Linked DNA regions of Homo sapiens. The protein of the gene in region 1 purifies or fractionates together with the protein of each later gene. This does not show direct contact. Each region holds a gene or a part of one and is shown on either strand. Other genes may lie near its edges. The genes, in order: MKLN1, RMND5A and RANBP10.

Evidence for each region.
Region 2: the proteins of MKLN1 (region 1) and RMND5A purify together in Homo sapiens (affinity purification with mass spectrometry; 6 studies listed by BioGRID and IntAct, with this or other methods). This does not show direct contact.
Region 3: the proteins of MKLN1 (region 1) and RANBP10 purify together in Homo sapiens (affinity purification with mass spectrometry; 2 studies listed by BioGRID and IntAct, with this or other methods). This does not show direct contact.

What each region holds. Positions count from the first base shown.
Region 1 is NC_000007.14:131,329,047-131,339,497, reverse strand, and holds part of MKLN1 (muskelin), read right to left. Parts: intron 1-10,451. UniProt on the Homo sapiens protein: Component of the CTLH E3 ubiquitin-protein ligase complex that selectively accepts ubiquitin from UBE2H and mediates ubiquitination and subsequent proteasomal degradation of the transcription factor HBP1.
Region 2 is NC_000002.12:86,750,705-86,761,155, forward strand, and holds part of RMND5A (E3 ubiquitin-protein transferase RMND5A), read left to right. Parts: intron 1-1,191; coding exon 1,192-1,326; intron 1,327-2,753; coding exon 2,754-2,854; intron 2,855-10,451.
Region 3 is NC_000016.10:67,726,506-67,736,956, forward strand, and holds part of RANBP10 (ran-binding protein 10), read right to left. Parts: intron 8,538-10,451; coding exon 8,353-8,537; intron 8,295-8,352; exon of another isoform or gene 8,044-8,294; coding exon of another isoform or gene 7,736-8,043; intron 5,080-7,735; coding exon 4,967-5,079; intron 3,542-4,966; coding exon 3,433-3,541; intron 3,324-3,432; coding exon 3,175-3,323; intron 2,980-3,174; coding exon 2,775-2,979; intron 2,097-2,774; coding exon of another isoform or gene 2,007-2,096; coding exon 1,885-2,006; intron 1,392-1,884; coding exon 1,246-1,391; intron 934-1,245; coding exon 822-933; intron 54-821; coding exon 1-53. UniProt on the Homo sapiens protein: May act as an adapter protein to couple membrane receptors to intracellular signaling pathways.

The DNA.
Region 1 (10,451 bases):
CCTGACCTCAAGTGATCCACCCACCTCGGCCTCCCAAAGTGCTGGGATTACAGGCACGAGCCAGTGCACCCGACCAACTCTCAATTTCTTAACCTTATAAACAAGTAAGTCTCAAAAGAAATGTGCAAATCACCAATGAAACCAAAAATAAAATCTCATTTTAACTCTTAATAAGCATTTAAAACAACTGCTTAACAATAACTTCTCAGTTTTTTGGCTAAGAACAAGAATAAAACAACTGCTAACAAATCATGTTACAGTCAGTTGACCCTTGAACAATGTGGGGCCTAGGGGCGCCAACTCCCATGCAGTTGAAAAAGCCATGTATGACTTTTGACTCCCATAAAACTTAACTGCTAATAGCTTACTGTTGACTAGAAGCCTTATCAATAACATGAATAGACAATTAACACATATTTCATGTGTTACGTGTATGACATACTATATTCTTACAATAAGCTAGAGAAAGGAAAATGTTATTAAGAAAACTATAAGGAAGAGAAAAAATATTTACTATTCATTAAATGGAAGTGGATCATCACAAAGGTCTTCATTGTTGTCATCTTCACGTTGAGTAGGCTGAGAAGGAGAAAGAGAAGGGATCGACCTTTCTGTCTCAAGGTGGCAGAAGCAGAAGAAAATCACGTGTAAGTAGATCTGCAAATTCAAATCCATGTTGTTCAAGGGTCAACTGTATTTAAGTTCCACAATTCTTTCCCATCAGATAGCAAGAATAAGCAGTTAATGAAGGAAAACACTTAGCAAGAGACCAAAGAACTCTGGGGATCAAGTCGTACGTTTTTACATTAATATAACCATGAGAAACTCACAGGCCTACAAGATATAACACTCTATTCCAAAAGAACTAAACACAGAAAGATTTCTGCTTTTGAATATGACGGAATAGTCTGTAGCAGATCAACACTCCCTCTTAAACTAGAAAAACTGTATTAAATAGGGAGAAAGTTCTTAAAATATCAGACTTTCTGAGGTAGCTAAGACTTGAGGTGGCAAGAAACTCACTGAAGGGTATCTGACATTCTGTGCAGCTTTCCCTTTCAAGACATGTCACCTATTTCTTTAATGGCACAGGCCAAGGGGCTAAGAAGCCAAAAAAGGACAGCCACTAGGAGGCAGAGAAGTCAGCAAAGCTTTTGGCAATTTCATGGGAGTAGGGGGACAAAACTTGGTAGCTAAGTCTTGAGGAGTCAAGATCCCCTAGTGAAAGAAGGCACAGAAGAACAAATGTGACACTCAGTACTGATTTTCCTCTTAAGGGATTTATCAGCTTTTAAACTGCACATAGCAAAAGGCTAAAAAGCCAGCAGAAAGCAATTAAAAAGGAAGAAGGAGCTTTTAAAACTCTCATGGGTCTGGAAAGAAAAAAAGCCAGAGAAGCCCTAAAAATACCCAATCTCTTAATTGAGATCTCTAGGGGGCTACCAAGTTGGAAGCAAACTACAGGTAGAACAAGGTTTATAAGGCTGAAAACCCAACCTCAAGTCAGCTCAGTCCTTGACAGTTGCAGTGATCTCTATCTGCCTGCAAGAAGATGGGTGAATCTGAAGACATGTGAATCCTATCTGGGGAAATGTATCATTATAGATACAAAATTTGTATCTAAAATTCTGCATATAATGTCTGGCACTCCATCAAAAAATTGCCTAATAATAATTATTACTATTATGTTATTATCCACATGTAATAATTTATATAATATACAATAGAATATATAATTAACATACATTAATATACAAATATATTAACTATTATTATTATTTGGCCTAACAAGATGCAAAATCAAAAGGAAAGAGATGATGGAAATAGGCCTATAGGTGATACAGATATTGAAGTTTTCAGACACAGACTTTAAAGCAATTTGATTAATATGCTCAAAAAATACATGACAAGAGATTTTCACATAATTAGAATCTATCTTAAAAAGAGAGGATGAAATAATTCTAAAACTAAAAAATACTATAACTAAAATTAAGAATAGATGGGGTTAAAAAGCAGATTGGACATAGTTAAATTCAGAATAAGTGAACTGAAATACAGTCAAGTAAAAACTATCCAGAACGGATAAGAGGAGGAAAAAAATCATAAAAATAACAGAAGAGAGCAGGAGACATATGGGGGATAAAAAGTATAATAAAGATTTAATTGGAGTCACAGAGCAAAGGAGACAAAAATGGGGCAGAAACAATATTTTTAAAAAGTCAAAATTTTTTCACAGCTGATCAGTCATACTACAAATTCAAGAGGTGCCAGAAACGCCAAACAGGGTACAAACAAAACCATTCTTAGGTGCATCACTGAAAGCTGTTTAAACTTAAAGAAAAAGAGAATGACAAAAAGAAAGGCAGCTGAACAAGAAAGTCATACTACCTTCCAAGAAGCAACAGTAAGTCTGACGGCTGATTTTGCAACAGAAACAATGGAAGCTAGAAGACAATGAACTGAGATCTTTAAAGTGCTTCAAGAAAATAACAGCTAATAATGTAGAACTGTACAGTCATTTAATATATTCTTCAAAGATGAAAATAAATAAATTTCAAACAAGCAAAAACTGAGAATTCAGTACCACCAAACTCCCTAAAAGGAGTTCTTCAGACAGAGGAAAATTAATCTCAGATGGAAGCATGTAAATACAAAAGGAAATAAAGAACAATGGAAAGGGTAAATATTAACTGTACAAAACAACAGTCTCTGGATTTAAATGTAGACGTGAAATGCATGACAATGACAACATAAAAGCAGGAGAGTGATAAATGCTATTAAAGTTTTCTAGGGTCCTAACAATGTCTGAGATGTTGTTTTTCAAAATCCTAATGAATATGCAACTCTAATGTACCACAAGAAAGCTTGTGGTGATCTAGCGTAACCACCAAAAGAACAGTAACAGAATATATAACTAACAAGCTAACAAAGGGAGGAATAAAATAATATTTTTAAAACACTTGATTAATCCAAAAGAAGGCAACAATGGAGAGAAAATAGAATATAGAACAAGTAGGACAAACAGAAAACAATAAAATGACAGACATAAACCCAAATTTATCAATAATTATATTTACCATTAATGAGCTAAATATATTTCAGATTTAATTAAAAACAGGCAAACAAAAATCTGTTTATTCTTAACAAGAAACAGACCCCAAATATAAAGCTACAGGAGCATTAAAAGCAAAAAGGAGAGAGAAAGTTTTACCATGCAAGCAAACAGCAGCCAAAATAAAGCAGGTGTAGCTAAGAAGACTTTGAGGCGAGAGACAAGTGTTACTAGAGATAAAAAGGGACATGTTATAATGATAAAGAGCCAATGTACTAGAAAGATAAGTTTGTATGTGCCTAGTAATATGACTTCAAAATACATAAAGCATACAGTTTAGTTCTTTATAGAACTAAAAGGAGAAATATACAAATCCACAATCACAGTAAGACACATTTGACACTTAACCTCAAGACACCTCTCTCTGTAATGAATAGAAAAAAAGGCAAAAAAAAAAAAATTCAGTAAGGATAGAGAAGATTTGTACAACACAATAACACAATTTACAAACTTGAACTTAACAAAGTACATAGAAGACAGTAGTTAACAGCAGAATGCATAGTCTTTTCAAGGGTACATAAACATTTATAAAAATGCTGAGCCATAAAATAAGTATCAATAAAGGTCTGAAACTATTCAGAGTGTGTTCTCTAATCATAGTGAAATTAAGAAATTAGTAACAGAAAGATAACTAGCAAATCCCCAAACGTTCAAAAAGTAAGCAATACATTTGTTAAAAAAAAAAAAAAACCTACAGGTCAAAGAATAAGCCAAAATAAAATCTGAAAAACATTTTTGCATAAATGATAATGAACATGTAACATACCACAATTTGTGGGATACAGCTAAAATGTGTTGAGAGGAAACCCTATAGTCTTAGGACTAAACATAGCCTAGTTTTCCAATTATTATTAACAACCAATTCAAAATATAAGTTATGTTAGGGTACTTCAATCTAGTTAGCTGCCATTCAACAACTTTTTTAGGGACAGATTTATATTAGACTACTTAAATTATTCCTAGATAATGACTATGATATTTCCTTTCTCTTTGTATACTTTTTTAAACATGGATTAATCTTAATCAGTAAAATTTCATCATAAGCAAAACCCATTAAACAAACAATATCTTTGTTTATCTACAGCATAAATATACATACACAGTATTCTACAGAATGTTACTTTGACTTCACAGATTTTTAGAAATATTCGTAACCAAGTCCTGAAGTTCTCATTAAACAACAACAAAAAAATTTTCTAACTGAAACATCTTCCCAATGTGCAAAGATGTTAAAAAATATTTTCTTCAAAAGTCCCCCATATTAATAGATTTTAATACTGCTGGACTTCTCAGAGCTTTATCTGACCACCCCTTAATAAGCAACAATCTACAGAACCAGCCATTCACAAAACAAGCCCTGGGAAATCCGGTAGCAGAGAAGATACCCGGATCAACTATCCTAAGATTGAACCTATAAAGACCTAGAAATTTTATAAATTTTCTATTGTCTCTTATCAGAGATTTCTGACAAATGGTATTATAAACAAACAGTAATTAGGGATCTCTAAATTCTCAACTGTACATTCTTTGAAACATTTTATACATATTAAAATGTCTATAAATAGCTGTATCTCTAAAATTAAAGTCTAGAAAATCTTTCATATTTCCAAAAACGATTTTTGAATGACTGAAATACAGCAAACTCATTGCCACAAGTGGCTGAAATGTATCTTATCTACACGTAAAACATCACAAAGTCTTTGTATCAGGCCAAAAATCATTTATTAAAAATCTATTTAAATATTTACCTAAAAGTTAACGCAAATAATAGAACCATTTACCCATGTGCCCAAAAAATTGTACATAAACCTCTCAACATTTGATCAAGATAAAAAGTATTTCTACACAAGAAACTGACGCTCAGAAAAGAATCATAACTTGCCAAAAGTCACAAATATCTAATTCTAGGAATCAGCTCTGTAGACTCAAATTCTCATCCTGAGTACATTTCTTCCATCTTGAGTGTTTTTATTTTTCTGAAGTTCTAAGAGTCCCAGACTGAAAAACACAGAACTTTCAGTGGCCAGTAAGGTTCCCAAACAGGGCCAGTGTCCTTAAATCTCAGTTTAAGATAGGGAGAAAAGGGAGAAAAGGAAGGGCATAATAGTATCCGGTCTCCTGGGAGTTGCATGCCTCCAAACTAGTGGTTCACAAATTCTGGGTTGCAGGAGCCTACAGAATTATTGTAACAAGACCTCAAATCCATTTTCATAACCACCATTATCTGTACACCAAATACAATAAATATATTCTATTTTTCAACTATATGTGATTAATAAAATCAAAATTCACTTAAAAGCTAAAGTAAAGGGATAGAGAAGGAAGAAACAAAAAAGTTATTGGGAGCATTATCACTTTTGAATTATATAAGCATCCTCTAGACATCTCTACGGACCTGTCTCTGATTTAAATATGTTTTCTTCCAAATTACCAAGGATAATGCCAAAATGAACTCAGAGTAGTCTACACAGATAGAAGGAAAATAAACTGATACCTTTAATCCAGCAACTCAACATCTAGGAATTTATCACCAATGAGTTCAAAATTTTTTTCCAGGCTGGGTGTGGTGGCTGTAATCCCAACACTTTGGAAGGCCGAGGTGGGCGGATCACCTGAGGTCAGGAGTTCGGGACCAGCCTGACCAACACGGAGAAACCCCGTCTCTACTAAAAATACAAAAAATTAGCTGGGTATGGTGGCACATGCCTGTAATCCCAGCTACTTGGGAGGCTGAGGTAGGAGAATCGCTTGGACCCGGGAGGCAGAGGTTGCGGTGAGCCGAGACTGCGCCATTGCACTCCAGCCTGGGCAATAAGAGCGAAACTCCGTTTCAAAAAAAAAAAAATTTCTGTAAAGCAAAACTACCTCATGACTCATAATAGTCAAATAACAAGAAACACAAATGAAAATAAAATAAAACCACAAAGCCTAAATGTCTAATAACACGGGACCAATTAAACAAAATGACATAAAGTCATTACATGGAATATAATGTATCCATAATAAATTTTGGCTGGGCACAGTGGCTCACACCTACAATCGCAGCACTTTGGGGCACTGAGGTGAGAGGATCACTTGAGCCCAGGAGCTGGAGACCAGCCTGGGCAACATAGTGGGACCCCATCTCTACAAAAAAATTTAAAAAATTAGCCAGGCATGGTTGGCTGGGCATGGTGGCTCATGCCTGTAATCCCAGCACTTAGGGAGGCCAAAGCAAGTGGATCATTTGAGGTCAGGAATTCAAGACCAGCCTGGCCAACATGGTGAAACAGTGTCTCTACCAAAAATACAAAAATTAACCAGACGTGGTGGTGCACGCCTGTAATACCAGCTACTTAGGAGGCTGAGGCACAAGAATTGCTTGAAGCCAGGAGGCAGAGTTTGCAGTGAGCCAAGATGGTGCCACTAAATTCCAGTCTGGGTGACACAGCGAGACTCCATCTAAAAAAAAAAAATTAGCCAGGCGTGATGGCATGTGCCTGTAGTCCCAGCTACTTGAGAAACTGGGGCTGGAGGATCGCTTGAGCCCAGGAGGTCGAGGCTGCAGTGAACTATGATCATGCCACTGTACTCCAGCATGGGTGACAGAGCAAGACCCTGTCCCTTTAAAAAAAAAGAAAAAAAATACAATATAGAAGAATATTTAATAACATAAGGAAGTATTTACTATATGTTAAGGAGGAAAAAGCAAATACAGAACAGCAAACAGGACAACAGTAAATTGAAAAATACATACATCTACAGTAAAAGATCTGGAATGATAATAAACAGTATTTAAAGGGTGACTAGTAATCTTTAGGTAGTGATATCAAGGGTAATTTAAATTTTGTTTCTGTGGGTCCATATTTTACAAATATTCGATAATAAACATAGAGCATTTTTTACATCAAAATATATATTAAAAGATATATAAAATATATTTTAATATATATGATATAAAAAGTGTCTATTTTTTTCTTAGACATGGGGTATTGACGAGATGCTGTCTTTTTCTTTTGTAGAGACAAAGAAGAAAAGAATATATATATATTTACATATTTTTAACATAATAATATATAACTATGCACATATATTTTATGTAATAAAAATATATAAATATTTATATATTTTTTTTCTTTTGTAGAGATGGGGTATGTTTCCCAGGCTGGTCTCAAACTCCTGGTCTCAAGTGATGGTCCTGCCTCAGCCTCCCAAAGTGCTAGGATTACAGGCATGAGCCACCGTGCCTAGCCTATATTCATTTTTAAATGTGAAATTTTAAAATTAGTTTTGAAAAGAGTTGAAATAAATTCACCTTCTATTCTAGTTGTCAAATCATAACACTTGTACTCTGAACCATGAATCAATCACATGTTGACACAAGGTACTATTTTAAGTACTATTTGATTTTAAGTAATAAGACTAACAGGAAAAAGGTAAACACACTTAAAAATCTATCAGATTTTATCATCTAAATTATCTAAGTCATTCAATAATATGTAAACAAGATAAGAATCATTCTATACCAATGAAATTACCTAATATGTAAAAAATACTTTCAAAGTTTCTCCCAGTTCTCATATGAGTATACTAAAATCTTAAACATCAAGATAAAATCTATTTTTCCCTCTCTTGCTGTTCTAACCTTAGAGCGCTTATCTGTAATCTCAATTAGACATATACAATAGCCATGTATAATAATGAACAGCTTTCGTAACAGAAGTCAAAAGGCCCAATATGAGAACCTTATCACCTACATTTTCTTCCTCCTCATCATTATTATTATTGCAGATGGGGTCTCATTGTGTTGCCCATGCTGGTCTCAAACTCCTGGGCACAAGTGATCCTCCTGCCTTGGCCTCCCAAAGTGCAGGGATTACAGGTGTGAGCCACCCTGCCCTGCCCCTCTTACATTTTCAACTCTTAGACCTGGGCAAGTTAACTTACCTCCCTAAATCTCACTTTTCCTAGCTCTAAAATAGAATAATAATATTTATCTCATAGGGTTTTTGTGAAGACTATTATATCAAAGAACACATGCTAAATGCTCAGTACAGTGCCTGAAGAATAGAAAGTACTCAATAAGTGGTGACTGTTATTAAAGTCACAATGCAATAGTTTTTAAGTCAGAAAACCTGGCAAGCCTCTGGAAAACTATATGACCCTGGGCAAGCTACTTACCCTGTATGGACCTCAGTTTCATCCTCCACAAAACATATATAAAATACCTATCTTACAGGTATGTACCAAGAATTAAACAAAACTGTATACAAAAAGCATCTTGCATATATTAGGTGCTCACTAAATTGTAACTAGCATCATTATTAGATACAAAAATAAACATTTGAGTACAGGGATTAGCAGTTTACAAAATATTTTTATGTATAAGAGTATATGTAATTTTATGAATTATTTAAATAAGTGTATTTAATTATTAAATTAGGTGTAAATTTCAGAAAAAAAGTAAAATACAGGCAATCTCTAAGCACACAAAAATAAAAGGCCTTTTTTTAGTCTCAAAGTAAAAATGTGTTCCCTATAACTGAATCTGCTTTAACATTTTTAAAGTCCAAATAAATTAAAAAGAGTTGAAAGGGGAAATATTTGTTTTTTCTGCCTCTGGAAGAAGGGGAAAAGAATTCTAAGTCCTTAGAAAGAAAATAGAGATAAAATTGTTCAATTTTTTTTAATGACTTCACATTTCTTTACACAACTAAAATGTAAGTGCCTTTAATACAAGAGCTCTTTTAAAGTTCTGATTTCCTGTACTATATATACCTTTGTGCAGAAGCAGTAAAACACTATAGTTAAAGACCACAGACTGTGGAGCCTGACTACCTTGATTCAAATTCTGGTTCCATCTAGCTGTGTGACCTTAGGCAAGTTTAAACTTCTCCCTACCTGCTTCCAACATCTGGCAAACGGAGATTCCTCTTGGGATTGCGGTAAGGATTAAATGAGTTGATACACTTAAAAATGTTCATAAGAGAGCCTAGCAAATGGACGGCACATCATAAATGTTTACCATTTTTGTTACTGATTTATTACTGCCACCTCGAAATGCTTAGATCTATGCCAACAAATATTTGCCACTTTGTGGACAATTTCAACAAATGTCTTTAACCTAAAATGAGACCTGTTTAAGAAGTACCTTAATATGGTTTCCACTGCCAGTAAAGATACAACAATTGCTGCTAGAGGGGATTTTAGGGCAAAGGTAAGTAAAGTCAACCCCTTTCCTACATCTTCTGTCACACAGAGAAGTAATATCCTTGCTTGCTTATAGAAGTTCAGAGCCAAGAGTTTTATAATTTAGGCATGGCACACACCAACCCAGCAGACACAATATTCTCCAACTCCAGCTCCATAATACTCAACTATACTCCTTCAAAGAAAAAAGCTTAGATTACTCTTCTAATACTTTACTTTAAATACAAATTATACTGCATTTGTCAATAGAATGTCATAAGGATTAAACAAGATATAGTAAGTGGAAGTGTATGAAAGTTACGTATGTATTAAATACTATTTTATGTATGTACTTGAGAAAATTGCAGCAATGTATTTCTCCAATCTCAAATTGTTGCTTTCTAACTCCAAAACTAGTGTTCTGCCCACTGCAAACCAGGGGCCAGAGTAACAAGACACAAAAGATTAAAGTTGCCATCCCACTAAATCATTTCCTGCTTGAAATGTACTTTCTTAAAATGTCTATACAACAGATAACGCGGATGGTACTTGTGTTATCCAAGCCTCAGGCCTACATCAAAAATTTAAGGAGTGACGTCCTGGAAATACGCTAATTCAAGACCAGAAAAATGTCTCTACAGTTAGATCAAACAATGCCACACCAATTCCCAACTGTCCATAATCCTAGCCTGGGTATAGAAAAAAGCTGAATAACTTCAGATCCAAGAACAAGATAGCCCAGAATATCAGAGGTCAAGTACATAGGGCCACATTTCAACTCCAACTACATGGCTGGACTGTTTATCTGGCTCACTCTCAAATTCAAAGTTGGGTTTCAGCATCAATCAGGGATATGGCCATGAATAGGCTACGCAGGCCAGATCAAACCACAGGTCACTTGGCACCCTTCATTGGGCCAGATCCTACTGAATGCCAACCCTTGACCTGGTGAATAAAATGGGAGGCTGGCAGTCATGACAGATTCTTCCAGTTGCAGCTCCATTTTGAGATTCTTCATTGATATAACCAGTGAAATCAAATTTGGATAAATGTGAAGAATTTCTCAAATACAGATGGAAAACTTACTTGAGTATGCTTCACAGATCTAGTCACTTTTTTGTTTAGTAAAATACTCAGTAAAATATATTATTCATTAATTTGTTTCGTTCAT
Region 2 (10,451 bases), on another chromosome or scaffold:
CTCCTAGTATTCCGATGACACACACGTTAGAGCTTTTGTAATTTTCCCACAGGTCCCTGAGGCTCTGTTTTTTTTTTTTTTTTAAACTGGTGTTCAGATTGGATGAATTCTATTGATTTTCACTGACTTTTTGCACTGCCACTTTGCTTCTGCTGTTGAAAAATTCATCCAATGAATTTTTTATTTTGGTTACTCTATCAGCTTTTTCCTTGCTAAGTCTCTCCCTTTGTTTCAAGATTGTTTGTATTTTTATAATAACTGCCCTAAAGTTTTGGATGGTTCCAGCATCTCTGTCATGTTGGCATTGGTGTCTGTTGATCATCTTTTTCCATGTGAGTTGAGATTTTCTTGGTTCTTTGTATGCCAAGTAATTTTGCAGTATCTTGAACATTTTGAATATGTATTATAGTACTCTGGGTCTTGTTTAAGTTCTGTGGAGAGTGTTGGTATTTTTGTTTTAGCAGGCAATCAACCTTGTTGGATTCAGGCCACAAGTTCTAACCAGTCTTTTCTGGGTTGTAGTTTCAGTGTTAGTTTTGTTTCTAAAGCCATTACAGTTATTTAGATTTGTCCTGTGTGTGTAACACCTGGTAGCCAATATGGGACCTAGGAATTAGGTCTATTCCCTAGTTCAGTTTTCAAAATCTGTAGTATGCTGTTTAGAGTCAGGACCATGCATGTATAGCTCAAAGGCAAACCCAGAGGTGTAGATAAACCACTCTCTTAACTAGTTGGCCATGCCCCCACAACCACTTTCAGCCTCAATACTGCAGTTGTTGGGATGTGCCATGGATTATTATGTTGATAGGCATATGTGTTTTCTCCTTTTTTCCCCTCCCATTATAGACAGTGCTGCAGTGGGCATGCTTTTACAGGTCATCATTGCATTCCTCTAAAAATATTGCTGCATATAATGCCTAGAAATCAGTTCATTCGCTTGATTTTATTTTATTCATGGACACCATTATTAAATCTACTTTAAAAAAACATTATCTAAAAATATACCTATTTACTCTTCTAGCATGACAAGTTTTAGAAAGGAGCAGTGGAAAAATTCCTTCCTTTGGGACGCTATAAATTGCAGTTGGGTTCTTATTGGGGTATCTCAGACTGAAACAAAGACCATTTTTTTCCTGTTAAGTGGGGTGAAAATAATCTATTTATGATTCCCTTTCTCTTTCTTTTCCCCAGAATTTTGATTCTGACATTAGCAGTGTGGGAATAGATGGCTGCTGGCAGGCAGACAGCCAAAGGCTTCTCAATGAGGTGATGGTGGAGCACTTCTTTCGACAAGGAATGCTGGATGTGGCTGAGGAGCTCTGTCAGGTAACAGTGTGCCAACTGGGAGGATATGAAAAAGAAACAAGGGAACTCCTTGGAGTTTATAGTATTTGCAGGGTGGGGTTTTGAGTCTTCCTCTAGCTATAGATAGATTTTTAATATTTAAATTATCAGAGATGACCTCATTTTACTAGGAGTATTTTGGGGAATTTTTTAAGTGGCAAAAATTATAGTTCTAGAACTTGTTATCCAGATCATTTTTTTCTTGTTCCTGTCCCAGAAGGTTAGTCCCAGTTCATGAATCAAAGGGCGCAAAAGCGATATTCTTTCTTCATGTCCATTTTTGATATAGAAGGTTAGTATAGCAGACAAGAGGAAAGGGACAAAAACATTGATGTTTGTTCTTCTGTTCTAGCCCAGCTTAAACGATTTTATCAAATGAATTTCCAGCTAAAATTTTTTACTTCGCATTAGCAGCATTTGTCTTTTATTTCTATCACACATGAGTTAGAACTCTACAACAGTTTACCAATACCATGTAGTCATAATAGTAGTAGCTGCCATATATTGAGTGCTTACCTTAAGCCAAGCCCTGCCTTTATTCCTTGCTGCAATCCCATGAAGTAAAAATTATTGTTTCCATTCTACAGATGAAAAATCTAAGGTCTGGAGAAGTAAGTTGCCCGAGGCCTTAACAGGTTCTTTGTGAAAGAACTGGGATTCAGTCCCTGATTCATATGTCTTCACACTCCGTTCTAAGCCACCATGTGCTGTTGCATTTTTGTTTGGAAACATGAAGGACCGAAAGAATTAGTTTAAAATCAGTCTGTAAACCAAACCTCTAATCTAAGCCTTTTCTATTTTAAACAATTCAGATAAATGATAACTCGGTTTTTCTCTGTACCTTACAGGGATTTTGTGTATGTGTCCATGTAATTTCCTGCAGTAAACTGTCATTGAGGATTGTTTGCTTTTAAGTAACAAAAGACCCACAATTACAGTGGCTTAAGCAAAAGTGAAATTTTTTTCTTGCACAGAAATCGGTAGTAAGACGTCCACAGCATGTTTGGTAGCTCTGCATTGTGAAACTCTTAGGGACTTAGCACCTTGTACCTCTGTTATTCCCAGGGTGTCTCCTGTCTTCAGAGTCCAGGATAGCAGCCAAAGCTCCAGCCATACCTTTGTATCCCAGAAAGGGGCAGAGTGCATATTTATGTTTCATTGGTCAGAACTTAACGTCTTACAAAGCCATACCCAGCTTTATTCCATTTGCTTATGTACCCTGCTGAAATTTGGGGATTCTACTATGGAAAAGAGGGGAAGAATGTACTAGGGGGCAGTCATCAGTCTCTACTATAGGGAATTATCTTTAATGGCTTGCCCCATATTTTACAATCTAGAATATACTTTTACCACTAGCTCCTTACCCTGATTACTGCTAACAAAAGTTCTTTCTTTCTTTCTTTTTCCAGGAATCTGGTCTTTCTGTAGACCCAAGTCAGAAGGAACCATTTGTGGAGTTAAATAGAATATTAGAGGCATTAAAGGTCAGAGTTCTGAGACCTGCTCTGGAGTGAGTATTGAGTTTGCTTTCTTTTGAGTACTTTGAGAACTCTCTGTAAGAAAACTCAATCAGAAAACACATTAGAGATTTTTAGATATATTTATCTTACCTGTGGTAGACTTCAGAGAAATCAAAGGAGAATTATTTTATTTATTTTGGCTAAGTGAAATATGGGGGGTGTGCAATATGAGAAAATGGTTGGAGCTTATTTCACTTATCAGTTGGTCTGAATTCCCATGAGAGAAAAGGGTTTTCTGTTTCCAGGCTACACCACCACTTTGTGTGGGCTGACATTACAACAAGCACTATTGTTCAGCCAGTGCAAGTTTGATATTTAAGCTTCCTTCATGTGCTGGGTTTTGCTGGGTTTTATGCTAGCATTCTAAGAAATTATTGGTTATTGGAACTAGGTGGTGTGGATGAAGAGAACAAATATTTTTATAAAGCTACTCTATTCTTAATTACTGTGGATTTTGGTAATTGACCATGAACCTCTCATTGATAAGAATTGTCTGAAATTACTCTGTAAGCTATAATAAATATTATTCTAGAGCAGGGTCAGCAAGCTTTTCCATAAAGGACCAAGTAGGAAATATTTTAGGCTTTTCATTTCACATAAGGTCTCTGTCGCATATTCTTCATTTTATTTTACAACCCTTTAAAAATTTAAAAACCCATTCTTGGCCATCTGCTATACAAAACAGGCAGCAAGCTGTATGTGGCCTGTGCCATAGTTTGCTGGCCCCAGTCCTAAAATTTTTTACTGTGAGGATTACCAGGTTATTTGTAATAAATAGCTCATAAAATAAAGGGAAGAAACTGGATTATAGAAGCAGTGATTTGTTGTGAGCTTATAGCTTTGGAATCCTGGTATTTTAAAACCAGAAAAATTAACCATCAGTGTTACAGGGTTAGCTGGGAAGTTGACTTTTATAAAATGTACACTTTTTCCCTTAAAATTTAGTTCCACTAACCCATTTAATTCTTCATAGCTTAGTTTTTTCTTTCTAATCATTTCTCAGTTCTTTCTCCTTTTTGAGACAGGGTCTCACTGTCACCCAGGCTAGAGTGCAGTGGCATAATCATGGCTCACTCCAGCCCCAACCCCCCAACCTCCCGCCTTAGCCTCCTGAGTAGTTGGGACTACAGGACTGTGCCGTTATGCCCAGCTAATTAAAAAAAATTTTTTTTTGTAGAGACAGGATCTCACTATGTTACCCAGGCTGGTTTCGAACTCCTGAGCTCAAGTGATTCTCCCACCTCGGCTTCCCAAAGTGCTGGAATTACAGACTTGAGCCTCTGTACTTGGCCATTTCTCAGTTCTGAGAAAATTTTGTGTAGTTCTAAAACCAGCCCAGATGACTAGACAGAAATTCCTGTATAAATTTATATAAAATTCTTGTATAAATTATAATAGATCTCACTTAAGAACTGTATCTCTGTGTAAGATGCATATTACCTTTGTAGAATTTGTTTAAGCAAATTTCAGATTGTGACACATCTGGGAGATAAATTCAACCAAATACCTCTAACACCTCTTAAACAAAATATGGCAACAACTACTTTTTTTTTTTTTTTTCCCAAAGAGACAGAGTCTTGCTCTGTGGCCCAGGCTAGAGTGCAGTGGGATGATCATAGCTCACTGCACACTCTCAAACTCCTGGGCTTAAGTAATCCTCCTGCCCCGGCCTCCTGAGTAGCTAAGACTACAGGTGCACACCACCACACCTGGCTAATTTTTAAATATTTTATAGAGACAGGATTTCTCTATGTCGCTCAGGCTGGTCTCAAACTTCTGGCCTCAAGTGATCCTCCTGGAGCGTCAGCTGCCCGAAGTACTGGGATTATAGGCATGGGCCAATGTGCCCGAGAAAGCCTACATACATATATGAACATGTAATGGGTTTCCCAGTTGTTTTATAGTGATTAGCAAATAATATTTGGGTTGTTATTCAAGGTAATATTCACTTATCTATGCGTTTCTTAGGTTTTTTCATTAAACTTTGTTCATATGTGCTAGTCATGTACGTACTATGACTATATCTGTAGTCACTGGCACATAGTATTTGCTACCTTAGCCTTCAGAGTACTCCAGACTTTTCTCCTAAGAGCCTTTTAAACTTTGTGCGTATATAAGATATGTTTCTTATTGATAAGCATGTTATGTATATTGATTATTTCTGTAAATTTTGTCTATTATTTGTTGCCTTAAAACAATTCCTCTCAGGCAGAGAGAGGACTTGTTCCATAAGTAAAAATTTTCTCATTTCATGTTTCTGGGAGTAGTGTTTAATATCAGCATGAGGGAATGTAGTGGTAATCATAGTTAACTCTGCTTGAGTGGTTATTGTATGCCTAGCATCGTTCTAAGCATTTTACGTGTCTTAACCTATTCAACCCTCATATTAACCTATGAGGTAAGTCATCTTACAGAGAAGCAATTAGGGCCTAGAAGATCCTCTGTGAAAAAAAGTCAAAAGATTATATGAGAAATGCTTTACATAATAGTCCCCCAGTATTCTCATTTGAGGTTCATTTTAACTTATTAAGTGTATCATCAAGCCAGGTGCAGTGGCTCACACCTGTAAGCCCAGCACTTTGGGAAGCTGAGGTGGGCAGATCGCTTGAGCCCAGGAGTTCGAGACCAGCCTGGGCAACATAGCAAAACCCTATCTCTACAAAAAAATAGAAAAATTAGCTGGGTATGGTGGTGTACGCCTGTAGTCTGAACTACTCAGGAGGCTGAAATGGGAGGATCACTTGAGCCCAGGAGGCGGAGTCTGCAGTGAACCAAGACCACACCACCACTCCAGAGCCGAATCCTGTCTCAAAAAATAAGAAAATAAATAGAAGTAAAAACGTACCATCAGTAATCCTACAGTAAAGAAACTCATTTAACTTGGTATAACCCAGTGTTTTCTCTGTGTATTTGACCAATCTTGTTTTCCCTCCAGATAACACATTTAAAACCCATAAAATTGGAGTTATACAAAACATAAGATTTAATAGAAATCGTCATTACAACAATTCAGATTTTTCCAATTCTTGCCTATTGTGGGTGCAGAGCAGATACTGACTAAGCATCTTTCATGAGCTAGGTACAGAAAATTCCCTTTACTCAACTTACAGCAAAAGTTGAATGATATGGGACTCCAATTTGGGGAATTCTAGTTAAGGTACAAGGCGGGAGATATCTGCCAGTTATGCAGCATCCCATTTGTTCCTGCTGGGAAGGATATCATGGAGCTCACAAGGGAAAAGAGGAAGGAGAGGATGCAGCAATTCCTCCAGACTGCCTATGCGGTGAGAAGGCAGAGGCCAGCCAAAAATTTGAGGTGGCTAGGCCGGGCACGGTGGCTCATGCCTGTAATCCCAGCACTTTGGGAGGCCAAGGCGGGCGAATCATCTGAGGTCAGGAGTTCAAGACGAGCCTGACCAACGTGGAGAAACCCCATCTCTATTAAAAATACAAAATTAGCCAGGTATGGTGGCGCATGCCTGTAATCCCAGCTACTCAGGAAGGCTGAGGCAGGAGAATCGCTTGAACCCGGGAGGCGGAGGTTGCGGTGAGCCAAGATCGCGCCACTGCACTCCAGCCTGGGCAACAAGAGTGAAACTCAGTCTCAAAAAAAAAAAAAAAAAAAAAAAAAAAAAAAAAGTGGAGGTGGCTAAAGGCCATTGAGGGCCTAGGGGAATGGTGATATTGTGGAGAGAAGTGGCAGAACAACACCTGATTACATAGATCTAATCAGGACCTTGCCTGCTCCTGTGTTCCGTGCCCTTGTACCTCTGAGTTTGTACAGATTTTCCCCCTCATCCAGATTTCTTTTATGCTCACCCAGATTGTTTTATTTGCTTTTTGAATTTCTCTTGGCGCCTAGAGTAGTGCTTACCTCATAGTAGGCCCTCAATGAATAACAGTAATCTGCAGGAGAATTTAGAGCAAACTTGTCATCCTCTTCCATGGTGGCAGATAGAAAGCCAAAAATAGTGTTAACGAGAGAATAGTAACTTAATACAACGAGGTGGGGGAAATATTAGAAAAAATAGGAACTGTCCTTGTAGCTATGCCATTATTAACATACATATTGAAAGAAAGCACTATCTTTAGGGGAAGCTACTTGGTTGCCTTCCTAAACGTGTCTCAAAGAGTAATACTACCTTGCTGGATTTGCCACAGTCTAGTATCTGACTTTCAGCTTTGCAGACTTGGAAACTTGTTTTTGGTGTCCTTATTTTGTTTTGTTTTCACTAAGAACAGGCCTTTAAAAACGATAAAAACCTGAATTGCTAAGCTGCGTACATAGTTTGGATTATTAGGGGCTGTGAAACAAGCTTGTGGTAGGCAGGTCCATGTGGAAGGCACATGAGCTTGCAAAGCCTGGAGTTGGAACAAGAGGAGATTGTTCTAGAAAATGTTCAAAGTTCTCAGGCTAAAATGTCCTGATGCCATTATGTCCACCATGGAGGTTGTGTTGCAGAGCCGTTGGGCAGTTCAGACTTCATTCACTGACTCCTTTTCTCAAAATTGTCCTTGGCTTGCCTTGGTCGAGTTTTGAGTCAGCATTAAGTATCCCAATAGGTAATAAATAAGAGTACAAAATCAAAAGGCACAACAAGATAAAAATACAGTGAAAAGTAAATCTCCCCACCTTTGCCTTCTAATCACAGTTACTCTCCAAACAGGCAGCCACCATTAACTGTATTATGTATACGTACATTTTTATGCACAAGTGGTTGCATACTATACACAGTGTTCTGCTTTTTACTTGAAAAATTTTGAAGTATTTGCCTATATCAGAGCATATAGAACTATTTTTTTTTTTTGGTGGCTGCTTAGTGTTCTCTTTTAGGGATTATACCTTAATTTTATTTAGCCAGTTCCTATGGATGGACGTTTGTAGTTTCCGATATTTTGCTTTATAAGTGATGCAGCATTGAATATCCGTTGCACATTATTTTGAGCATGCCTGCTAGATATGTTGTCCAATATGGTGACCACTCCTATGTGTAGCTCTTACTAATCTCTGCATTACTGAGAACCTCATGTAAAAGGGTGTGTGTGTGTGTCTTAAATAGAGTCAGATATGCAATACCATAGTTTGTGTGGTTTCTTAAATAGCATGTGAAAAGGACAGAGACTCACACCAACTCTGAGATGAGTTTAATGGTAGTAGTTCCAGCAGTGGACTCAGCCCATAGCTGAAAAATTACCATTTGAAAATATCTAAGAAATGAAACACTGAGTGTTCTTTTCAGTCTCTAAAGCAAAGTTACAGAGTTCCTCACTTTTTTGACTGAACTTTTTGTCAGGTTTGCCATTCTCTGAATTTTTTTAAGCATTTGATTCATGTTACTAAGGACATTTCACCAGGTCCACACCTGTGGAGTAAAAATCAATGTCATTCATTCCCCTGAACTTCAGCTTTTACCCCCAAGAGTATAGCCTTAAAGGAAATTAGAAAAAGAGGTTTTTGTAAGCCTTTAAATGCTGTGAAAGGTTACAGTGGAATGTGCTGTGGGATTGGCAAGAGGCTTTTTTTCCCTAGTATTACTAGAAATAGACACCCACCCAGGCTGGCAAAATTGTAAGATTAGAGAGATAAGCCCACTAATGCTGTCTGTTAGGTTCCTGAGGGAGAACCGCTAACTATGAAGGTGAAATCTTGTATTTATTTTTGGAATGATGTAGAAATTCTAAATATGGAGGTAACTGTGTGCCAAGTCTTTTCACAGGCCTGACAATTAAGATAATTAATGCTAATGTTTCTGCTGGGTAATTGTATAGATGTGGATTGCTTCTAACTTAGTCTTCTCATAAGTAATATTGTTTTGGGGTTTGTTGGTGGAAAGGCCCCAAAAGGCTCTTCATCAGAAGAATGTAGTGGCAGAGATCAGTGTAACACTGTTGATCTTACTGTCATTTTTGGGGTTCAGTGTTTCTCTAAATGGAGTAATTCCAAAGGTGACAGTGTTCTCGTGGTCCACGCTGGAAATTTGGGATCAGAATTTTTTTAAAAAAATTATAGAGTTAATAATTTCACTGCATTTTTAGTTTGCTTGCCCCCCCGCCCCCCACCATCTCTACTAAAAATACAAAATTTGCCAGGCGCGGTGGTGAGCACCTGTAACCCCAGCTACTCGGGAGGCTGAGGCACAAGAATCACTTGAACCCGGGAGGCAGAGGTTGCAGTGAGCCGAGATCACGCCACTGTACTCCAGCCTGGGCAACAGAATGAGACTCTGTCTCAAAAACAAAAACGTGGGGAGGAAGGAAGGGGGAGGGGCAGGGGCAGGAATCATTTTAGTGAGAAATAGAAAACGAATTTCGTTTTCTTTGTAATTCTTTAAGATTTATGAGAATGGGCCACAGACACCCTGACTTGCTCAGGTTCTCAAACTTTATGTCTTTCCTCATTATATCAGTCTGGAACTTCTTTGTCTTTATAAAGTAACCTCTTACCACTGAGATCTCTGTGTCCTTTCTCTCCTGTTTGTATTCTTTTTTTTTTGAGACGGAGTTTCACTCTTGTTGCCCAGGCTGGAGTGCAATGGCGCAATCTTGGCTCACCACAACCTCTGCCTCCCGAGTTCAAGCGATTCTCCTGCCTCAGCCTCCTGAGTAGCTGGGATTACAGGCATGCGCCACCACACCCGACTAATTTTGTATTTTCAGTAGAGATGGGGTTTCTCCATGTTCATCAGGCTGGCCTCAAACTCCCAGCATCAGGTGGTCCACCCACCTCGGCCTCCCAAAGTGCTGGGATTACAGGCCTAAGCCACTGCACCCAGCCCTTGTATTCTTTATTGAACCTATGGGCAGTCTTTGCAGGTTTCTAACATACATAAATTCGTTTTTACCACAGTTTAGTTAAATAACACCTGGCTGCCAACAACACAGTTCAGATTTCAGTCACCATGATGTATTAACTGTGAGCAATTGTATAAAATACAGACTTCTCTGCCAGCTCTTCAGTCTACACATCTGGACATAACAGGAGCATCATGGTCATGACCAGTTTTGTCACTTCGCTCTTGATCACTGCACATCTACTGTCAGTTACTCTCAGGCAACAGCTGTGTGGGTTGTGTCACCTCTTTAACTCCCAGGGATAAACCCACGTGACATTTTACAAAAATGGATAATTGGAAGACGGACTTGGCAACAAGAAAAACCTCTAGAAGTGAAATTGAATGTGATTAGAAAGATTTGAAAAAGGACAACAGCAAGATGAAGCTAGGGCAAGACCTAAGCCTACAGGAAGCTAATGGTACAAAGCATATTGGAAAAGTCCTGTCACTATAAAGACGAGGGTAAAGTCACTTCACCATCTTTTCACTTATATTGCACTAGAATAGAAAGATGCTTGTGGTTTAGATGGAACATTTACTTCTACTTTGGATTGAGAGAGAGAAGTGTGTGTGTGTGTGTGTGTGTGTGTGTGTGTGTGTGTGAATCAGTTTGGCTACTATTCGGGCCAAATTGATAATAGTTGCCTTATTGAAAGAAGATGGTAATTACAAGGATATTGAAGAACTTCACAGCCAGTAAAAGATGCTTTTATCATGTTCAGAAGTTGTGAATTGACTAAAGCTATCTGAGGAA
Region 3 (10,451 bases), on another chromosome or scaffold:
TGCCTGGCCCAGGGCGAGCATCAGAGGGGGCTGCTTTGGCAGGTTCTGGGACTCTGTGGAGGAAAGACAAGGCCTGGTCACTGGCCTGCCCAGGGCTTGGGCCCAGGTCAAAGTTCCCTTGGGGGTGGAAGGAGGGGGCAGTGGACAGATTCTCTTGGAACAGAGTGTTCAGTACCTCTGTGTAAGTGTGTCCCAGCCACCAGGCCATGGCCCTGAAGTCATGCCAGGAACCTGAGGACCTTAGCCCCATGTAGAGCGCTGGGCTGGCCTGGGCCTACTGCCATGGCCTAGGACCCATCATGAACTCAGCTGGGCAGACAGAGGTCAAGGTTTAGGTTCAACCATGGGAGCCCAGGAGTCCTATGAGTCACCAGAGAGGGCCTGTACAGAGCTTGCTGCCCCAGTGTGGATAAACATCAGCTCTTTCTGGGGCCAATTGGGGTGGGGGTTGGGAACCACCCAGGTAGCTATGGGCTAGCTTCTGTTTTTGTTAGATCCACTCACCTAGGCCAGGCATGGTGGCTCACACCTGTAATCCCAGCACTTTGGGAGGCTAAGGCGGGCAGATCACCTGAGGCCAGGAGTTCGAGACCAACCTGGCCAACATGGCAAAACCCGTCTCTACTAAAAATACAACAACTAGCCAGGCGTGGTGGCACGCACCTTAGTCCCAGCTACTCAGGAGGCTGAGGCACGAAAATTGCTTAAACCCAGGAGGCAGAGGTGGAGATTGCTGTGAGCCAAGATTGTGCCACTGCACTCCAGCTTGGGCTACAGAGCAGACTCTGTCTCTAATAATAATAATAAATAGATTCACTCACCTAAAATGGCGCTGTTGAGGGCAGCACACACAGGTTCCCTCTGGATGGGGTCAAGCTGCTGGCCAACTGGGCAGCTCCAGGGGTCTGAGTATGCCAGCAGGCTGAAGGCATCCTACAGGACAGGGCATTCTTGAGAGGACTGTGGCACACACCATAGCTCACCCTGCTACCCGTGGCTCCAGAGGGAGACAGGGCCCTGCATGATGCCCAGCCTGGAATGTGGGGTGTAGGGTCGGGCAGGGCTGTACTCTCCCCAGAGCCTAGGTGTGGAGGGCACATGTCCAGTGGGCCCAGATGCCCCACTTCCCTCTGCAGACCTGGCTGGAGCCCACTCTTTCCTGCTGCCCCCTGGACTCTCCCAGAGCCACCCTGCCCCCAACACCAAATGGGGCCTGCTCTGCATGAGGCCCGGCTCATCCTGTACCTGCAGCATCTCTGTGTGGGCCAAATTCTTGCCGTACTCCCGGCCCAACTGCTCACTCAATGCCTGCAACTCGCGGCCAAACAGAATGATCCTTTCTGTGGCAGCCTGGTTGCCCCCGCAGAGCTGCCGCCGAGGATGCCTGTCATCTGCATCCAGAACCCAGTGGAGAACGTGTTAGGAGGGGTGAAGAGGGAAGGGCAGGACTAGGGTGGGGCAGGAAGGACCCCGGGTGGGCTGCAGCTTCTGCCAGAGGCAGGCAGGGCTGGGAGGAACAGGTGAGGCAGCTACAGTCAAGGCGTTCTTCTCTTCATTCACCTGGCGCACAGTCTAGGATTTAGGGAGGACTTGGAAGTTGTCCCTCTTCCCAGCCTGCACAGACGCAGGGTGCTCATTAGGGTGCCCATGCTCTCGAACACCCTCCAGCCTCAAACATAGGTGGTCTTGGCACAGGCCAGGGCCTTCGTACATTTGGAGCCACCTCAAGGACCCATTCACAATCGGCTAAGGAGGCTGTGGACCAGGTCTGGCTGAAGCTTCTCAAGATGCCAAAGCCTGCCTACCCCAGCCCCTCCCAGGGGAAGAGGGCACCCAGACTGCACACTGCCCTCAAAGAATAGCACACCGGGCCGTGGCTCTCACCCATGCTGGACTCATCCGTCTGCAGGTCCTCATGCTTGTAGGCACCATTAACAATGCGTGTGGACATGCTTCCTAGCACACCGTTGGGGTAGTGCTCTGCCTCCATCTCCATCTCACTGTCGCTGTGGGGAGGGGTTGAGGTGGGAGTTGGCCCAGGGGGTGTGGTTGGAGCAGCCTGGTTGGGCCTCCTTTCAAGCTGTAGCCATGGGTTGCTGTGGGTGAACCGAGGACCCCCAGGAACATGAAAGGACAGCTCAGGCTTCCAAGTCTTCAGCACTTGGCCCCTACTGTGACACCAGCTATCCTCAGAGGCCTGTCACCTGATTCCCACCCTTGCCCCAGTGCTGCCTCTGTGATTCTCCCCTCCCTGGCCCTCCTCTGAGTTCACACACCTCTTCTACATATCCCCCAACCTAATGACTGGGCCCCATGGCCCCCATGGGCAGCTCTGTGGCCTTGGTTGGAAGCCAAACTCAGGTCAGCCTTGAGGTGTACCTGGGGATGCTGAGAGCCACCTAGAGCTCTAGCCTGCGGCTTAGCTTCCCCTGCCTGCCCAACCTGGCTGTCTACAAGCCAGAGCCAGGGAAAGCTCCCTCATGATGGACCCTGAGGGTTCTCACAGGCCCGGCCTCTTTGGAGGAGACCACATCCTCAGCCTGGCATCATTGGAGCCTCTGGAGAAAGCCAAGGCCAAAGAAAGTGCAGCTAAATCGTGGGGAGGGCCAGAAGCCAGAGCTGATGTCTGGCCCGGTGGGCCAAAAATTAGGACTCCAGGCACAGACCTGAGATGGAGGCTGGGGGTGAAGGGCAGGGCGCTCAAAGGACAGACTGCAATGGGCCCAGCTGGCATAAGGCAGAAGGCAGAGGAGGAAGCAGAGCAAGGCAGGCACCTGGTCTCCTGGTTACTGGTACTGCTGTGGTGCTGGGACTTGGTGGAGTCTGTTGAGTTGGACTCGGAGTAATTGACGGAGGATGGGGAAGAGGACGAGGAGGAGGAGGAGGACGAGGATGAGGAGCTGGGTGCAGGGTATTTACTGTGGTTCTGTTTGCTCTTGGTGGACGCGACGCCATTGCTACAGCTGGGACTGTCTGCTCCTAGAAGCCAGGGTGACAGTCAGAAGAGGAGGGGCAGCTTCCCATGAAATGAAGCCCCAAGAACAACCACAGTGGTCCCATTTCCCTTCTCCCAAATCCAGCAGTGAGCCCTGAGCCCAGCCCAGGAAAGGGTATGTGGAGTGGCCTCTCTCCTCCACACCAGTTCTTCCCAGAGCCCTCTGGAGAGTGGCTGACCTGTGTTGTGCATGTGGGAACTACTGGGGCCATGTCGGGGACTGAGGCTGGGGGAGCCAGGGTAGCTGTCCTGGGACTTGGGGCTTCGGGAGCTCAAACTTCGGACCTCACTGTCCGTCCCATTCACCATCTCCACAAACTGCCGGCACCTGTGGAGGGAGCGGAGCAATAATGCTCTGGTTGTGGTCCAGGTTGACGTTCCCACCACCAGCTGAGAGGGGCTGGACTCTGGGGGAGCTGGGGGTGCCCAAGACTTACTTGAGCATGAAGAGGAGGTTGGGGTTGTGCTCCAGCAGCCCTGGGTAGAAGCGCTGGGTGGTCTCGATGGCCTCGCCCACACGGCCCTCCAGCACCAGCTTCTGGATCTCTGCAGGGTGCAAGAACACAGCAGTGAGCGAGGGCTACAGGCCTCTCCCACAGCCACACACCTGGGATGCTGCCAGCCTCAGGGTAGGGTCCGGCTCAGAGTGCCTCGCCAGCTTGAAATGCTCACAGGAGAGGAGGCTGGAGAAAGAACCTGACTGCCCAGCCCAACAGATCCTGGTTTCTGCCAAGTGTCAGAGAGTCCTCAAGAATATGGGGAAGATGGAGGGGAGACTCTCAGCCCAAAGGCAGGAGGGTAAATGTGGAGGTCTGCTCCTGCGGGGCACATGGTGCCAGGGACCTGGGGGCAGGGTAGGGCCCCAGCTGGGGCAACATGATCTGGGGATGGGCACCCAGGCAGCTTGGCGGCCTGAGTGGCTCCTCTTCAGACAGACTCCTCTCCTTCCAGGCCTCACAGGGGAATGGCAATGGAATCACACTGGTTTCTGACCAGGGCTCTGGCTGGTGGTCTTCAGGGGCTGCAGCATGCCCCCTGCTGGGAGAGGAGGCCATCCTCCTCATGCTGGCACCTCTGATGTTGACACCTCTCACGCCATCAGCATCTTGCTGCTGCCTTTTCGCTCTTGCCGTGGGGCCTGGTGCATCTCGCTGGGAGCAACTTCAGAGTCTGAGGCTCTCATTCATAGATCCCAAGTCTGGGATCCCTTTCCGTCTGTCTGGCTGAGCACAGCTTCTCTGGGAGACAGACACGTGCACATACAGAAGAGACAGCAGGCTTGGAGAGGGGTAGGCAGGCACTCACAGACACGCATATCCACACCCACTTGCCCTCATTCTCCTTTTCTCCTTCTAGCTCCTCACTGGGCTCCTTTTCCTCTTTTCCAACACCCCTCCTTCCGTGAAAGAGCCTCCAGACACACAGCATCCAGGCCAGCATCAACACTGGGAGAGCTCTGGCCAAGGGAGGACTTTAGGTTGTCTGCAAAGGGCAGGACCAGTGGTGGGGAGCAGAGGGTAGTGCCCCCACAGCAGCCATTGAGCACTGGCTTTGCCCTATCTGACCACTTCAGTCCCCTCTCTGGCTAGGAATAAGCAGAACTACTAAGGCAGGCAAACAGCCTTCCTGGAAGACCATGAACAGGAGGTTGAGAGGAATCCAGGATTCAGGGGGAAGGAAACAAGCAGGGAGGAAATGGAGGAATGGAACCAGCCATGCCAGGGCCTGGCCTGCGCCCAGCCTTCAGAATGTGCATTAGGGAGGCTGCCCTGAGACGTCTCCATCCTGCCAACTGTCCATCTGGGCAGTGCCATCTTGAAGGTGGGACAGGAACATGGCCTCGAGCTGCAAGCTGGTCATGAGGACCAGAGCTGAATGGACTCCTGACAGGTTAACCAGGGTTGACATGAGCCAGAGAGCAGAGTTAGGGACAGGTGAGGAAGGGAAAGGGGAAAGTAGAATAAACCTTACTTTGTCTGTTCTTTATGGACGCCTGTTCTTCCTGAATCGGGGTTTCAGTCATTCGAGCAAAAGCCGTGGCTGTGGCACAATACCCATGATGCACGAGGTAAGATGAAACCATGCTAGAAGAAAGGAAGAGCTTCAGGTGACACTCAAGAACTGCACTTCTCACTGACTACCCAATGGACTCAGGACAGATTACCTCCCCCAGAGGTCTCCCTAAACACGTCCTGGAGGTGTAACCTCCACAGAATGAGAATAAAGGGGCTGAAACAAAATGAAAACTTCCCCCATGGTGCCCCACGGTCATGAAGTCAGGCTTCGGAGGGGCTGGTCACCACATCTGTGCCCACAGTTCAGAGGAGTGGCTGCAGTTTATCTGAGACATGCTGCCCACAAGTAAGCGAGTATGATAACAGAAGTACACACACAGGCACACTCCTCACAGGTGGCTGCCTCTTTGGGAAATGCAGCAAGCCTAAGAGGCCAATAGTCTCACTGATAGCTTCCCGAAACTGCAGCTAGCCAGGTAATCTGGCAGATTTCCAGACAGGATGCATGCCACATGCACACCTTCTACAGACACAGGAGCCCCTCTGCAGGCTGTGCCATGTACCTGAGAGAAGCATTTCAGCCCTCCAGGTGAACCTGCCCTCAGCAGTTCCAGCTCTAGTGAGTGAGTGATGGGAAGCTAACTCACAACCCAGAGTTACACCATGATACACCACAAATCAGGGGCCCAAGAAGCCAAGCAATCAGGCTGATTTTGCCAGGCAGAGATAGGCAGCAGCAGGGCCAATGGGAACACAGTCATTGGGAAATGGTCTGGAGAAGTCTGACTCCCTGTAGCCATTTAACCCCAGCAGAAGCTGGCTGAACAGTGGCACATGTGTGTACACATATAAAGCAGAGGCTGAACCCTCAAATCTGATGTGTACAGGAGTGAATACCTTGGTGTGTACATGTGTCTGATGTCATTACTGTAACTCTAAACACAAATGTCTGAAGGGTTGTCAGGTGGAAGGCACAGAAGTTTGGGTGTGTGTTCCCTCAAGCTTTAAGGGGTAAATGAGATAATACACATAAAGTACCTGGCAGGAAGAAGTCCATAAATAAGACTTCTTATTATGAAATGATATATTACATAATATTATAGTATAAATAATAATTATCAGCTGGGCGTGATGGCTCATGACTGTCATCCCAGAACTTTGGGAGGACAAGGCGGGAGGATCACTTGAGGCCAGGAGTTCAAGACCAGCCTGGCCAACATTGCAAGATCTCATCTCTACTTTAAAAATATGGCCAGGCGTGGTGGCTCATGCCTGTAATCCCAGCACTTTGGGAGGCTGAGGCGGGCGGATCACAAGGTCAGGAGATCAAGACCATCCTGGCTAATGCGGTGGAATGCCATCTCTACTAAAAAAATACAAAAAAAAATTACGCCCGGGCGTAGTGGCGGGCACCTGTAGTCCCAGCTACTCAGGAGGCTGAGGCAGGAGAATGGCTTGAACCCAGGAGGCGGAGCTTGCAGTGAGCCGAGATTGCGCCACTGCACTACAGCCTGGGCGACAAAGCGAGACTCCATCTCAAAAAAAAAAAAAAAAAAAAAAAATTATTGGCTGCGTGTGGTGGCTCATGCCTGTAATCTCAACACTTTGGGAGGCCGAGGCAGGAAAATCACTTGAGCCCAGAAGTTTGAGACCAACCTGGGCAACATGGCGAAACCCTGTCCCCACAAAAAATACAAAAAATTAGCCAGGTGTGGTGGTGCATGCCTACAGTCCCAGCTACTCAGGAGACTGAGGTAGAAGAATTGCTTGAGCTCAGGAGGTCCATGCTGCAGTGAGCCATGACTGTGTCACTGCACTCCGCCTGGGCAATAGAGTAAACTCCTGACTCAGAAAAAAGTAAAGTAAGTATAATTATTATTATTACACCATATTATTATTATAAACACAAGGGTAAATATGAAAAAGTCTTTATCTACAAGAGGGTTACCTACACAAGTAAAAGAGAAGGAATTACCTGACCTTCCACTAGAGGAAGCCAGCCAAAAGGCTTGTGACAAATTTGTCTCTGTGATAACATAGCCATTATCAATATTCATTAAATGAAGTTATGTAAAACCACAGTACACAAATTATATGCAGGTCTTGGCAAATGCTACATATGAACACATACAAGCACATGGATACACACATGTAAACAAAAACACCTATGTGCTATGCTGGACATGGTAGCACATGCCTGTGATGCCAGCTACTCAGGAGGCTGAGGTGGGAGGATCACTTGAGCCCAGGAGTCCAACCTGGGCAACAAAGTGCGACCCCATCTCAGTATTTTTTTAAAAACCCCAAAACAAAAACACATCCATGTGCTGAGCCTAGGCCCTGAAAACTGAGAGTATCAGTTCCTCCCCTACACAGACTTGGCATCTTCACCCCTCTTCTTGGCAATCCCACCAAGCCTGCTCTGGGAGTGGCGCTGTCCTGGCCATCCAAGGAAGTCCTTGTCATCTGCTCTGGGGGGCTGTGAACAAGAGGCAGCAATGCTGTTTTTCCTGGGGAAGGTCTGGCCACCTAGCCCCTGCCTCAGCCCATCCTTGGGGCCTGCCTCAAGGGACAAAGGCTGCACAAAGAACTCAGTGTGTACCCCAACCCCACCCCAGGAATCCTAGCACCCTGGTGCCTTTGCAGGGCAATGACCACAGGCAGTGGAAGCCCAGCCCTTCCCCATGCCCATCTGCCCATCCTTGAGAGCCAAGCTAACACCCACCTCCTGGCAGAGTGGATACTGGTCACTGCCTCACTCAGGCTTGCAGATGGCAAGTGGAAGAGAAACCCAAAGCTGGCCTCCCTTGGGAGTTCAGCGACACTGGCTTCCAGGACAGTCTGGGAATTAATCAGCCAAGGAGCTAGCTCAGCTGGTCCTAGGGAGAACTCCCTTCCCTCCACCACCGCTATAGACGAATGAGACTCAGTTGGATGCTGGGCCCTGTGAGGTGGCCTCAGGCCAGAGTCACAGCACCATGGATACTCCCTATGGTAGAAAAAGGGTCCACAGAGGAAGAGACCACAGGGCATCCTCTGCAAAATCCTCTGCAAAATGACCTGGGGAAGGAAAACAGCCCTGCTGGTGATCTTATATACAGGAGCCTCCAATATGGCTGAGAGGCAAAGGTTTAATTAGGAGCAGCCCGGAGAACTCGGTGGGAGCTGTCCATCCGACGACAGAGAAGCAGGAGAGCTGCAGGCTGAATGGCCCTGGGAATGCTTCCCAGAAAGGATCCACCCGCTGGAATTTGTAAGAACAGCTTGTAGCCCTACAGGGGCCTAGAGTGAAGTGGGCTGGGGTGGGGTGGGAGTGGGTAAGGGCAGGAGCAGGGCACTCACTTCTGCAGCACTGCCTGCCACTCGCCAAGCCGGGCACTGATGGGGAAGCAGTGGACCGTGCCCTGGACCTTGGCACGCCACTCCCGCATGTAGTCCTCAATGTCAAACAGGAAGGGCTGCTGCCCAAAGTTGGCGTCCACAATCTCCCCAGGTGTCTGCAGGCCTACGGTGGGGTAGAGGTTGGCCTGAGGAGGAGAATGAAATGTCAGTCAGGCCCTGAGGGCAGTGGGGTTCTAAGGCCTCACCTCACCTCCATGGCTGCTGCTGGCCCATGCTTGGGCTGGGAGAGTTGCAGCAAGGCTGGAGGAGGCAGGGCGGAGCCACCTCTGTCCACCTCCCTAGCAGAGACATTATGCCCCAAAGCTTGAGGGGAGAAAGCAAAAGAAAAGCAAGCAAGGCACATCATGGAGAGTGTCCTGCCCTGTATCAGAGGCCATTGTGTCCTCAAGGCCCAAGAGCCCTTTCTGGAACTCAGCCAAAGCATACAGAAATGGGCTGGGCTCCACGACCCTTCAGACGTGCCCATGAAGGTCTGCTGCAATAGTGGGTCATGGCTCCTCTTGGAAAGATCCAGGGCCAAGGATCTCTCTGTCTCAAAAAAAATAAGACACATGAGGCTGGGCACAGTGGCTCATGCCTGTAATCCCAGCACTTTGGGAGGCCAATTTAGGAGGATCGCTTGAGCCCAGGTTTTCAAGACCAGTCTGGGCAACAAAGTGAGACCCTGTCTCTACAAAAAATAAAAAGATAAAAATTAGCCAGGTGTGGTGGTATGCACCTGTGGTCCCAGCTACTCGGGAGGCTGAGGTGGGAAGATGGCTTGAGTCCAGGAAATTGAGGCTGCAGTAAGCTGTGATTCTGCCACTGCAACCCAGCCTTGGTGACAAGAGTGAGTCCCTGTCTCAGAAAGAAAAAAAAAAAACAAACCAAAAGATAGATACATGGGGGGTAGGCAGAGATGGGATGACGCAGGAAAGGAGGGAGGAGGGGAACATGGCAAAAGGGAACCGGTGGTCTAGACCCCTGGTGCTGGCAAAGGGTGAAGAGAAGCTACCCTTCCTGTTAGAGGCTCGCTAAGAGGATCTTCTGGCCAGTAGGGTGTGAGGCTCCCTGCTTTCCACCTAGCCTCTACCATGACTGGCTTTTGTTCGGTCCCTCCCTCACTTGGTGGTTCCTGTGGCTCCCCACTGCAACTGTCCAGAGCCTCGCTAGCCTCCTCCCCACTGTCACTGCAGATGGTCTTCCCAGGGCCCTCAGTCCACCCTTCACCTCCGTGCTCAGGCCATGTTCCTTCCTGAGTATCATGCACTTTTTTTTTTTTGAGACGGAGTTTCGCTCTTGTTGCCCAGGCTGGAGTGCAATGGCGCGATTTCAGCTCACCGCAACTTCTACCTCCTGGGTTCAAGCAATTCTCTTGCCTCAGCCTCCTGAGTAGCTGGGATTACAGGCATGCGCCACCACGCCCGGCTAATTTTGTATTTTTAGCAGAGATGGGGTTTCTCCATGTTGGTCAGGCTGGTCTTGAACTCCCAACCTCAGGTGATCTGCCCACCTCAGCCTCCCAAAGTGCTAGGATCACAAGCGTGAGCCAGCGCGCCTGGCCAACCATGCATTTTTGTACCTGCACAAGGTATGGGACCTTTTCCTGTATGCTGGCTTCAGCCCACCATGGGCTCTGCACACAGAGGACCTCTCGCTTCCTTTCTTTCCCCTACCATCCTCCACCACAGGCAAGGCCCGCCTCCTCCAGCAAGCCTTCCTGACCGTCACTGCCTACCATGTCTTTCCCCCATACCTTCTTGCATGTGGCTGCATACTGGCCATGCTCATGCCTGGTCATTTCATGTCACGTCCCCATAACTAGACCCTTCCCTAGCCAGGGTCAGCATTCTCCACCTGATTCTGTTCTCTTTGCCTAGGACCACAGCCCCTCTCTGGGGCTTCCAGGTAAGAGGGAAGGATTCTGAGCCATGGACTGGAGGTTTTAACAGGACCCTGGGTGCTATGGTCTGGGCTTCAGAGGCCCATAAGATCACAAAGGCATTTCCTGGGGCATCACTGGGGTGTTTGGGATCCCAAAGCAGCCACCAGAGTCAGCA